Regions from separate parts of the Homo sapiens genome. Here region 2 is linked to region 1. A link means that fine-mapping ties the variant in region 1 to the expression of a gene that starts in the linked region. Tissue or cell type: whole blood. Region 1 holds a variant in brackets; the other region holds the start of a gene. All regions are shown on one strand. Distances are between the middles of the regions.

Region 1 (2,821 bases):
ACCAGCAGAGTTAAAGTGCACACCAAATCTAATAGGCCTCTCTGACATTTATAGAAATTTCACCCAAATTTCTATACACGCAGAATACATGTTATTTTCATTAAAACACGGGACATTCTCCAAAATAGATGATATCTTAGGTCATAAAACAAGTCTGAGAACATTTTTAAAAAAACAGAGGTCATATCAGTAATCTTTTCTGAACATAATGAAATCAAACTAGAAATCAATAACAAAAGGAACCTCGGAGAATACATGAATACATGGAAATTAAACAAAATGCCCCCAAATTACGAATGGATCAATAAAGAAATTATGAAGAAAATCAAAAGTTTCTTAAAACACATGAAAATGGAAATACAAAATACCAAAATCTGTGAGATCCAGCAAAAGCAGTCCTAAGAGGGAAGTTCACAGTGATAAATGGCTGTATCATAAAAGCAGAAAGAGGCCAAGCACGGTGGCTCATGCCTGTAAATTCCAGTGCTTTGGGAGGACAAGGCAGGTGGATTGCTTGAGCCCAAAAATTTGAGACCAGCCTGGGCAATATGGCAAAACCCCATATCTACAAAAAATATAAAAAATTAGCTGGGCATGGTAGGGCACACCTGTCGTCCCAGCTACTCAGGAGGCTGGGATGGGAGAATCATTTGAGCCTGGGAAGTTGAGGCTGCAGTGAGTTGTGATCATGCCACTGCACTCCACTCTGGGCAAAAAAACAAGAACAAAAACAAGGCAGAAATACTTCAATAAACATTATAATAATGAATCTTCAGAAACTAGAAAAGCAAGAACAAACCACATTCAAAATCAGTAGAAGAAATAAAGAAGATCAGAGCAGAAATAAATGCAATAGAAATTTAAAAATACAGAAGATCAAAAAAATAAAAAGATGGATTTTTAAAAAGATAAACAAAATAGACAAATTTTACCCAGACTAAGAAAAAATGAGAGAAGATACAAATAAATAAAATCAGAAACTAAAATGGAGACATAATAATTGAGGCCTCAGAAACAGAAAGAAGGCTGGGCACGGTGGCTCATGCCTATAATCTCAGCACTTTGGGAGGTCGAGGTGGGTGGATCACCTGAGGTCAGGAGTTTGAGACAAGCCTGGTCAACATGTTGAAATCCCATCCCTACTAAAAAAAAAAAAAATTAGCTGGGCGTGGTGGTGGGCCCCTGCAGGCCCAGGTACTTGGGAGGGAGGCTGAGGCAGGAGAATCACTTGAACCCAAGAGGCAGAGGCTGCAGTGAGCTAAGATCAAGCCACTGCACTCCAGCCTGGGTGGAGAGTAAGACTCCATCTCAAAAAAAAAAAAAAAAAAAAAAAAGAAATGGAATCATTAGAAACAGTTATGAACAACTACATGCCAACAAATTGGAAAACCTAGAAGATGGATATACTACTCAACATATACAAACTACCAAGACTGAACCATTAAGGAATGTAAAATCTCAGCAAACCAATAATGAGTAATAAGATCAAAGCCATAGTAAAAAGTCTTTATTAAAGAAAGGCCCAGGACTTAACAG[C/T]TTCATTGCTGAATTCTACCAAACATTTAAAGAAGAACCAATACTAATTCTATTAAAGTCTTAAAAAAAAAAAAAAAAACTGAAGAGAAGGGAATACTTGCAAACTCATTCTATGAAAACCAGACAAGGACACAATGATAAAAGAACACTACATGCCCATATAACTGAAAAACACAGATGTAAAAATTCTCAATGAAATACTGCCTGTCCAAATTCAACAACACATTAAAAAGATTATTCGCCATGATCAAGTATGATGAATATCAGGGATGCAAGCATGGTTCAGCATACACAAATGCAGAAACATGATATATCACATGAACAGAATCAAGAATAAAAATCCAAAAATTGGTATGGAGCCACAAGAGACCTCGAATAGCCAAAACAATCCTGAGCAAGAGAACAACAAAGCTGGAAGGAGACATCATACTACTTGATATCAAAATGTACCACATTTTGTAACCAAAACAGCATGGTATTGGCATAAAAACAGACACATAGACCAATGGAAAAGAATAGAGAGCCCAGATATATATCCATTCATCTACAGCCAACTCATCTCTGACAAATTATTTTAATAGATGCTTGAAAAGCATTTAATAATTTAAAACCCCTCATCAAAATGGGTACAGAAAACATACCTCAAATATCAAAGGCCATATGTGACAAACCCATGGCCAACATCATACAAAACAGGGAAAAATTAAAAGCCTCTCCTCTAAGGACTAGAACAAGAGAAGTACATTCATTAACCTAAAGACTCCACTAGAAAACTGTTAGAGCTGAAAAACAAATTCAGTACAGTTGCAGGATACAAAATCAACATGTAAAAGTCAGTAGCATTTATATATGCCAAAAGCTAACAATCTGAAAAAGAAATGAAGAATGTAATCCCATTTACAATAGTTACAAAAAATATAAAATATCTTCAAGTCAATTTAACCAAAGAAGTGAAAGATTTATATGAGGAAAACTGTAAAACTCCAATGAAAGAAACTGAAGAAGACAAATAAAAGGAAAGATATCCTATGTTCATGGACTGGAAGAATGAGTATTGTTGAAATGGCAATACTACCCAAAGCCATTTACAGATTCTATACAATACCTATTAAAATACCAATGACATTTTTCACAGAAACAGAAAAAAGAATCCAAAAATTGGTATGGAGCCACAAGAGACCTCAAATAGCCAAAACAATCCTCAGCAAGAGAACAAAGCTGGAAAACAAAATAGGAAAAGGACATCTCTTCAGTAAATGATGCTGAGAAAACTGAATAACTAGGT
Region 2 (2,821 bases), 140 kb before region 1:
CTAATGTATTCATGTTCTTTCACTCTCCAGAGGCAGGAATTGAGGTATTAGAGATTTTATTTTTTAGCGACTGCATCAAGCACTTAAGATCTGACAACTGTGATGTGTATTCTCACTTGGTATTAAAAAATAAAAGCTTCTGTGTTTGCATTTGATTAGAGTCACTCAGCTGGGTGGCTGATTAAGCAGGAATAGCGAAAGCACCTTCCTTCAGAAACACTGAATCCTGGTTAATGTAGTGTAAGATTACGGATGGGTGTAGTCACATAATTTTTATTAAATTGAAGAGATTAGCTCTGCTGAAAAATCCCACTGTGACAGCAAACTCTAGGTGCAATAATGGTACCTAACACTTCTCAAACCCACTACAGGGCCCCAAATGGTCTTATTTCTGAATCTTCTTTCAGTTCCAGTGAGAAAGCTTCATTCAAATATTCAGGATAGTTACCTGAAATTGAGTTTGCACTGTTTTTTTTTTTTTTTTTTTTTGAGAGGTGATGCAAAATCAGCACAAACATTTGTAGTCTGTGAACTTTAGCTATATTCTCTCAGTGTAAATAAAAATGACACACACTCTCTTTCCTCTAGTTGCTTAAAAGGCAAACACTTTTCCCCAGACGGAGGCTCCGGTGGCCACAAGGGGGCCGTCGGAAAAGATCCCAACTGGAAGCCCAGAGTGTGTGATTTGTTTGTCTAACATGCATAAAATTGTTGCCTCTTCCTCCAGACTCAGGATAACTTGGTTATCCCAGTTCTAGGAAGGGAAGGTTAAAAAGCCATAAAGAAGGAAAGAAAGATAACTTTTGAAAGCCAAAACCTCCCATATTCCCTGGAGTGAAGCAGAGTAGAAAGTGCAGGTACTGGAAAGAGTGAACAGCACTTTTCTTTCTTTCTTTTTTTGAAACGGAGTCTCGCTCTGTCACCCAGGCTGGAGTACAGTGGCCTGATCTCCCTTCACTGCAACCTCCACCTCCCAGGTTCAAACAATTCTCTACCTCAGCCTCCGGAGTACCTAGGATCACAAGCCCCCGCCACCGCGCCTGGCTAATTTTTTTTTTTTTTTTTTTTTTTTTTAGTAGAGACGGGGGTTTCACCATCTTGGCCAGGCTGGTCTTCAACTCCTGACCTCGTGATCCACCCGCCTCGGCCTCCCAAAGTGCTGGGATTACAGGCGTGAGTCACCGTGCCCGGCCTGAACAGCACTTTTTTAGACAACAAAGAAGGCTACAAATGGAGTCCATTTACATACTGCACACGAGGGGCTTGGGGAGGATTAATTGGTTAATGTTTGGCAAGCTGAGCTTGGAAGACAAGTTGTGCAGAGGTGCTGTTGTCACTTACTACTGTTATTAATTAACAAGGTGAATGCCAAGCAAAAACAAGCCTCGGGGTGTGCTTTCATTTCTTAACGCCATATGCGATGTCTATTGCAGGAGTGATTCGGGAAAGTTACCTCAAAGGCCACGACCAGCTGGTTCCCGTCACCCTCTTGGCCATTGCAGTCATCCTGGCTTTCGTCATGGGGGCCGTCTTCTCGGGCATCACCGTCTACTGCGTCTGTGATCATCGGCGCAAAGACGTGGCTGTGGTGCAGCGCAAGGAGAAGGAGCTCACCCACTCGCGCCGGGGCTCCATGAGCAGCGTCACCAAGCTCAGCGGCCTCTTTGGGGACACTCAATCCAAAGACCCAAAGCCGGAGGCCATCCTCACGCCACTCATGCACAACGGCAAGCTCGCCACTCCCGGCAACACGGCCAAGATGCTCATTAAAGCAGACCAGCACCACCTGGACCTGACGGCCCTCCCCACCCCAGAGTCAACCCCAACGCTGCAGCAGAAGCGGAAGCCCAGCCGCGGCAGCCGCGAGTGGGAGAGGAACCAGAACCTCATCAATGCCTGCACAAAGGACATGCCCCCCATGGGCTCCCCTGTGATTCCCACGGACCTGCCCCTGCGGGCCTCCCCCAGCCACATCCCCAGCGTGGTGGTCCTGCCCATCACGCAGCAGGGCTACCAGCATGAGTACGTGGACCAGCCCAAAATGAGCGAGGTGGCCCAGATGGCGCTGGAGGACCAGGCCGCCACACTGGAGTATAAGACCATCAAGGAACATCTCAGCAGCAAGAGTCCCAACCATGGGGTGAACCTTGTGGAGAACCTGGACAGCCTGCCCCCCAAAGTTCCACAGCGGGAGGCCTCCCTGGGTCCCCCGGGAGCCTCCCTGTCTCAGACCGGTCTAAGCAAGCGGCTGGAAATGCACCACTCCTCTTCCTACGGGGTTGACTATAAGAGGAGCTACCCCACGAACTCGCTCACGAGAAGCCACCAGGCCACCACTCTCAAAAGAAACAACACTAACTCCTCCAATTCCTCTCACCTCTCCAGAAACCAGAGCTTTGGCAGGGGAGACAACCCGCCGCCCGCCCCGCAGAGGGTGGACTCCATCCAGGTGCACAGCTCCCAGCCATCTGGCCAGGCCGTGACTGTCTCGAGGCAGCCCAGCCTCAACGCCTACAACTCACTGACAAGGTCGGGGCTGAAGCGTACGCCCTCGCTAAAGCCGGACGTACCCCCCAAACCATCCTTTGCTCCCCTTTCCACATCCATGAAGCCCAATGATGCGTGTACATAATCCCAGGGGGAGGGGGTCAGGTGTCGAACCAGCAGGCAAGGCGAGGTGCCCGCTCAGCTCAGCAAGGTTCTCAACTGCCTCGAGTACCCACCAGACCAAGAAGGCCTGCGGCAGAGCCGAGGACGCTGGGTCCTCCTCTCTGGGACACAGGGGTACTCACGAAAACTGGGCCGCGTGGTTTGGTGAAGG

Evidence for each region. PIP is the estimated chance that this variant, and not a neighbour inherited with it, causes the effect. A credible set is the group of variants that fine-mapping cannot tell apart.
Region 2: it holds the start of SEMA6A-AS1, and the variant in region 1 is the best candidate, but not a certain one, in a credible set for the expression of SEMA6A-AS1 in whole blood (INTERVAL, PIP 0.56).

What each region holds. Positions count from the first base shown.
Region 1 is chr5:116,310,416-116,313,236 of GRCh38, reverse strand. No RefSeq gene overlaps it. Among named protein-coding and RNA genes, the nearest start is that of MIR12130, 56 kb to the right of the region's middle. The variant C/T (reference allele first, on the strand shown) is at 1,537.
Region 2 is chr5:116,446,424-116,449,244 of GRCh38, reverse strand. It overlaps SEMA6A-AS1 (SEMA6A antisense RNA 1), which reads right to left and starts at 1,747. Exons shown (of 3, transcript NR_109879.1): 1 at 1,454-1,747. It overlaps SEMA6A (semaphorin 6A), which reads left to right. Exons shown (of 19, transcript NM_020796.5): 19 at 1,434-2,821. The coding sequence ends at 2,632.